Homo sapiens: one gene and its partner. The protein of the gene in region 2 purifies or fractionates together with the protein of the main gene of each other region. This does not show direct contact. Each region holds a gene or a part of one and is shown on either strand. Other genes may lie near its edges. The genes, in order: NDUFS4 and CACNA2D1.

What was found.
Region 1: the proteins of CACNA2D1 (region 2) and NDUFS4 fractionate together in Homo sapiens (co-fractionation; one large-scale study listed by BioGRID). This does not show direct contact.

The regions. Positions count from the first base shown.
Region 1 is NC_000005.10:53,640,459-53,644,295, reverse strand, and holds part of NDUFS4 (NADH dehydrogenase [ubiquinone] iron-sulfur protein 4, mitochondrial isoform 1 precursor), read right to left. Parts: intron 1-3,837. UniProt on the Homo sapiens protein: Accessory subunit of the mitochondrial membrane respiratory chain NADH dehydrogenase (Complex I), that is believed not to be involved in catalysis. Complex I functions in the transfer of electrons from NADH to the respiratory chain.
Region 2 is NC_000007.14:81,948,113-81,950,866, forward strand, and holds part of CACNA2D1 (voltage-dependent calcium channel subunit alpha-2/delta-1 isoform 1 preproprotein), read right to left. Parts: intron 2,397-2,754; coding exon 2,280-2,396; 3' UTR 1-2,279. UniProt on the Homo sapiens protein: The alpha-2/delta subunit of voltage-dependent calcium channels regulates calcium current density and activation/inactivation kinetics of the calcium channel. Plays an important role in excitation-contraction coupling.

The DNA of each region.
Region 1 (3,837 bases), on a different chromosome or scaffold from region 2:
CTCATAAAAGCTGGAGCTGTAAGTTATGTCTATTTTTAAAACTATATGAAAGGAAACACATTAAACTCTTAACACTGGTTACCTCAGGAAGATTAGAGGAAACACTTTTACTTTACCTACTTCTATACTGTGATGCATATATGCCAAAGTGATTAAAAAACTTAAGATTTTAAACTTTTTCAAGTTTTGAAAAAAATTGAAATAGTATTTCTTGATTTATACTATAAAACAGTATTTGAGCTACAAAGTAGAAAGGACAGTATATAGAAAACCTTTTTTAAAAAGTGTCTACACAATGTTGCTAAGCTATTTATATTTTGAACTCATAACTACCAATCTTCCATGTCTTCTCGAATTACAGCAATTATTTATTGGTATCTTACCCTAATTTAAAGTTGGCATTTGAACAAGTGGGTTTCTGATTTTGGGAACCCAAGTTGTCATGACACAGAATCAGTTTTTGCATGCAGAAGACATGTAAGGTACTACAGCCCAATTGAGCTGCTGCCAAAGACAGAATAAAGAGGCTTGGCATCTCTCATATACTTGACACCTAAAGGGTACAGAGGCTCTAAAATTCCTAGTCCCTGTAGGCACACTCTCAGTCTAGACAACCTGATTTCTCACACTTTAAAAATGCATCACGACACCCTATTGTTATCATTTCATCCACACAGCTTCGGCTAGTGACAGAAGAACCTGTTCTTTAAGCACATTTCAATGGGCTAAAGCTCCCACTCCAAGATTCCATTAAAACAATGTAACACTTGAAAAGAACTATGAGGCACTATGCTGAACTCTACTTGTGTCTTCAACGCTTTGTGTGGTTCCCTCTAAATTCACACGGAGCTACCTGAGATCTAACTTTCACAAAAAAATTTAAAATCCGCAAACTATTTAAATTATATTGAACTAATTGTATTCTTTATGGATTTCTACTTTTGTATGGCAATATGGATCACCTGTGAGTTTTTGAAACCTATTTAGAAAAGCTAGAAATGCTTTGGAGAAAGATGTCACTATTGCCTTTTACAAATTTCTTATTTTACTGGTAAAATAGAGATAAATAATTTATAAATAATAATTCAAAAAACTAAATCACATAGGTATGAAAAGCCTTCAAGCTGGCACCTGAAGAACCTCAAGACTCACCAGTTAATAATTATCTGTAAATTCTAATAAAACAAGCTACTCTATAAGTAATATACACAGATTTATTGAATTTTAAAACTTAATTGTTGAATAGTTGGGTCAAGTATGAAACCTATGCTTCCATTATTAATGTCATTATCCTAATAAAGTTTCAGAAATACAACCTTATGTGCAATATGCTATTTTAATAAATGATAACTAATAAGTCAATGATAATTCACAGATTAAGGGCATTCAAGTCAAAATTTGCTATTGGAAAGATGCATGTCATAATTCCAAAGTTCATTCTTTCAACACCATATCTTCAACAATTTTAAATTTTGGAGGAGATGATAGCTGACCTGCCATTTCACAAGTCTACATAAATGAAGAGAAAATTTAAAAAATCACTATGAATGTACCAGTATATGTATATGAACTTTATTCTTTCAAATACCAATTTCCATGATAAAATACTAGTTTTCCATATTAAAACTGTATGATTCGGTTATCAACTGTCTCCATTTATCTTCTGTGATTTCAACTTTTTTTTTCTTTAACAAAGGAAGCAGGGAACAAGCAATGGGAAGTTGGTGTCAAAATGCAGAAAAACCTCCCAGCAAGCTTCTTGCAACCACCCAGGATTTAGAGTCTTGCTGGCCGCTCTCTTTTCAATACCAGAATTTCACACATTTCAATGACTATTATGACTTCAAAGAATCAAATTTTCATCATTGTCCGTCATCTGCCGGTTGATTTGTATAAAGGAGTTCTTCTGCATGCACTCCCAACAAAAGCCTCCTTACTTTTGTGGCTATATATCAAGTTTAAAAGTTTTGTTTGTGACAGTTGTGTCTTTGGTAAATTAGGGCAACACTGAAGGAGTGCAGCTGCTCCACAGGAACCTCCTTTTTGGCACCATTTCACTTAAATAAAAACTGAATAATTAGCTTCTGCCTTTATTAAACCACAAAAATGCCACTGGCCTTAGTAATTACTTCCGGTTGCCCCACCCACTTAACCTTAACAGTTTACACTTGTCATGAAGAGAAATAAATGTAAGGTTTTTGCACTTTGGGATGCATTTTTGCTAGATCTCTCAGTACGCCCAGAAAAGCCAAAACTTTTATCATGCTTTTCCTAGTAAGTTCACTAAATTGCATGTTAGTATGGATCAATGCTGAACAGTTTTAGTAGAGCACATATTGAAACATTAAAAATACTGTTTATAGAAACTTGTTCTACCGCAGACTATTAGTTATTTACAGCTAAAACTAATCTAAATTTGATGACTGAGTTTACATTCTATTTCAACCATAAAAGATGTTCAAAGAAAAGCAAGTCTTAGACCTGTAATAAAAACTTTCTTTCAACTAACCCACAGATACTTAAAGCAAGAAACTCATTAAAGGTTTCATAAATAAGGACATTTTACAAAATAAATTTTACAGTTTAAAAAATATAAAGAGTTGGCAGATAGCATTATCATATCTATTTACTTACTGTGGAAGAACTTAAACACTTCTAAAAACTTAGGGGCCATATAGATTCAGATACAATAAAAAACATAAAAATAAATTTGAGTTGTGCCATTAGAACCAACTTTTGTTTGTTTGTTAAAGTAACAAATTGATGTTGGAGTCCAACCAGGCAATGAATCAAGTGTTGGAATGTGACATCTGTTATATTTTGCATACTGGGCAAAACTATCATTGAGCCAAAAGTGTAGTTTGAATGAACTGCTGTGGATAATATGATAGAAATAGTTCATGCAAATGATGCTACTAATCATACAAGGAGTACAAAACTAATAATTAGAGACATGTTTTTCAATCTCACAAACTATTTTTACCACTCCTAGATCCTTCTGAGCAGGAAAGCCTTGGCTAAAAGCAAAGGGCTGAGTCAAAACTGGGTTGGAATCCCAGTTCTCAACTTTGGGCAAATTAATAGACTCCTTTTTCATCATGTATGAAATCAGTTTGCTATACCAAAATGAGTACTAAATAACATATGTGAAGTGGTTACCTTCGGCAACAAAAAGAATGTTTCTCATTTATTCAACGTATTTTTTAGCACTTACTACATATTAGACACTGAACACAATGAGCAACAGTGAAAACATGATCTCTGTCCTCAAGAAAATAACAAACATTTTTTTAAAGGACATTCTCTGTCCAACCACACCAGCTCTCAGGGAAGTTTGTAATAAAGGTCCCGGTCTTTAAGGGGATTCTGTCATCTCAACCTTAGCTGGTCAGTCATATGGTTAATGTCACAGATTAATGTGTGTGTGATTACAGGCATGTCATATTCCATGGGAAACTGGAGATCCATAACCACTATAGCAACAAAGTCTTTTCTTTCTTTTTGCCTATCTTTGGAAAGGGCTATCTCCTCCAAATTTCATGTTAAAATTTGATCCCCAATGTTGGAAGTGGGGCCTAACGGGAGGTTTTTGGGTCATTGGAGCAGATCCCTCACAAATGGTCTGGTGCTGCCCTTGTGGTAATGGGTGAGTTCTTGCTCTATTAGTTTCTGCAAGAGTTCCTCCAAGAGCTGGTTGTTTAAAAGAGCCTGACACATTCTCTCTCTCTTGCCTCCTCTATCACCATGTAATCTCTGCACAAGTCGGTTCACCTTCACCTTCTGCCATGAGTAGAATCAGCCTGAAGGCCTCATCAGAAGCATATGATGGCACCATGC
Region 2 (2,754 bases):
TGTATGCTGGAAGCAATTCAATTGTTTTAATGTGCATTGTTTATATACACAAACTAACAATTTTATATTTTGATACCCCCTTCCCAACACTATCATGATTTAAGATAGTCTAGCAAAAATTGAACAATAACTTTTAAATATTTAACAAACAACATGATTAAAACATTGTTACTAGAGTGAGAAGTTTTTTTCCCCACATATATTTTAAATCACTTTGGTGTTTTCTAAAATGTCAATACCAGTTATGAATGACACTACAAAATCACAACAATGCATTAGAAATGGTAACTGATGTCAACTCTTAGAACAATAGTTGGCAAAGTGATTCCATTTCCCCCCACCTTTTTATTGAAAAAAAAAATCTTGAAATGTACACAAATGGTACCTAAGGTATATTGGTGGTGGGAGGGAATTACAAATGTATGCAAAGCTAAAAACAAAACAAATGTTATCTTTTAAGCTACGTTAAATTATTGGTTATATCTTTGATATGTGGAGCATATTAAAGCATGCTGGATAATGTTAATAACTTTGACTTAAAAAGGATATGTAAGAAAATTTCCAGCATATACACATACCAGTAATTGGCATGTTCCAAAAAAAGAAAAACTGCATTTTATCATAAAAAATATCTACATACGTTCAGCCTTCAGTAAAATTATTAACTATTCTTAGAATTACACATTCATAGTTTTTACCTTTTCTTCAAATACTGTTTGCTCCAGAAAATAATTTTTAAAAGCATAAATAATCTGCTACCATATTAGTCTATAATGAAATATCTGATTTACTACACTAACCATTTTCACCAATGAGGCTGTATAAAAAACAACTTTTATTATTCACAATCAAGTATTCATGTGCATACATAGAGATTCAAGGTTTCCTATTTGTTCAGATTATTGTAAAACCCTTATCAACTTGCATGGAAATTTTGGCCAAACGATCATACCATTTAAAATGGAAGGGCAAAAGCAGCAGTAGCAGGAACTTTTGGATTGTATGTGCTACTATTGAAACGAACAAAGAGGAAACCTAGGATGAATCTTCATTGAGAACATATATGTACTTTTCAAAAAATAAATGTGTCAAATCTGATTTATGTACTTAAAATATCTGTACATAGGTTATCAGGCGAAAGCATGAATCTGTATAAAATTCATTAATTCTCATTTCACCATTTATCTAACCCCAATCATTCAGCATTTACATTGCACAGTATATTCAGAGTAGTTTAACAACATTTTAAAGATGACTTAAGTGCATTTACACTGCAAGGTTCAGATTCTTACATAACAATATCACTCAGTTAACTTTTCAATGACTACACTCTACAGTAAGAGAAAAAACAACTGAAAAGTTAAAATAGCAGCAGCATCATGCAAAATACCCTTGGTAAACCAAAGTTCATTTATCACAAGAAAAACATTTCCCCCTCCCCCCTGACAAGCTTTTCTTAGAGCATTTTTAAATATCTGGCTAGCACTACATAACTGTACTGTGAACAAAAGGAACATTACATCAAAGCATTTATTAAGGGCTTGCTTACATTTATGAGGAAATATGTCACATATTCTAATTTCTCCCTCAAGCACCTTTAGTTTAATAATTTCTTAGTTACTATTTTCAAACCATCAATTCATTACCCCATCAAAATTGAATTGGTCATCAATTGTGTTTTATTTTTGGCAAAGAAGCCGTTCTTCATAAGGCATTTTATTCATGGCAAATTTTTCATAGAAAATTAGCCATTATTTATATTTCAACAATTTAGACCAATGTTAATTCTCTCTTTCTCTATATATTTCAATAATTGCTACTTAAAGCAGGAATTAACTTTTCACAGAAGAAAAAGTGAAGGCAAAAATAATTTCTTTCCCCTTAGAGATTTTCTTAGTAAAATTGCAGCAAGTCAAAATTCCAGGTCAATATCAAGACATTTCTTATGGTTCATTAACAATTGTATGGGGAACCCTTTCACATGTAATCACCAACAATGCAACAACAAACTCCCAAATTTTCCAATAGAGGACACGTATAGGATTTTGCTTTGATGTTACACATAGATGATGCAGCATTCACACACGTTTAAGGATCTGACACCCTGACATGCAGCCAGTGGGTGCCTTAGGAGTCTGCGCCTTAGTGTTATGCCATGGAACAGGCCCAGCTAATGTTTGTCTGATTTTATAGCTGACCCTACGTTACTGTAATTGAGGGCAGGGCTCATGTTTTGGCAGGGTCTGGAGTTTAACTATGCAGATTTGGTTTTTAGAAGGTCATAACAGGCGGTGTGTGCTGCCAGATACCAGCCAAAGTAGTAGAAACTGGATTCCAATGATATACCACAGGGAGGGATTTAATCCAGAAACACCACCACAGTCAGTATAATCCTCCTGTTGTTAAAAAAAAAAGAAAAGAACAGAAAAAGAAAAATCTAAAAATCTTGAAAAATATTTAGTAACACATCTTTCAGAGTAATCCATATTTAGTTCACTTTCTGAACTTACCTTATAAAACTGCTGTAATTGAAATCCAAAGAAATTACTTTCTCCTAGATTTTATCATTGAGGAATTTCCCTAGCATCATTTGACAAATGCTTTAAATTTTTAGTTGTAGCTTTTGATGATTATGAAAGAAAATAATAAATGCTGTTTGAATAATATACTAATTTTAAAGAAAAAACTTTCACAGTATCAAAAATCCTATATATTTATAAATGCAAGAAATAAATGTAAAATTTAATAGTAGGT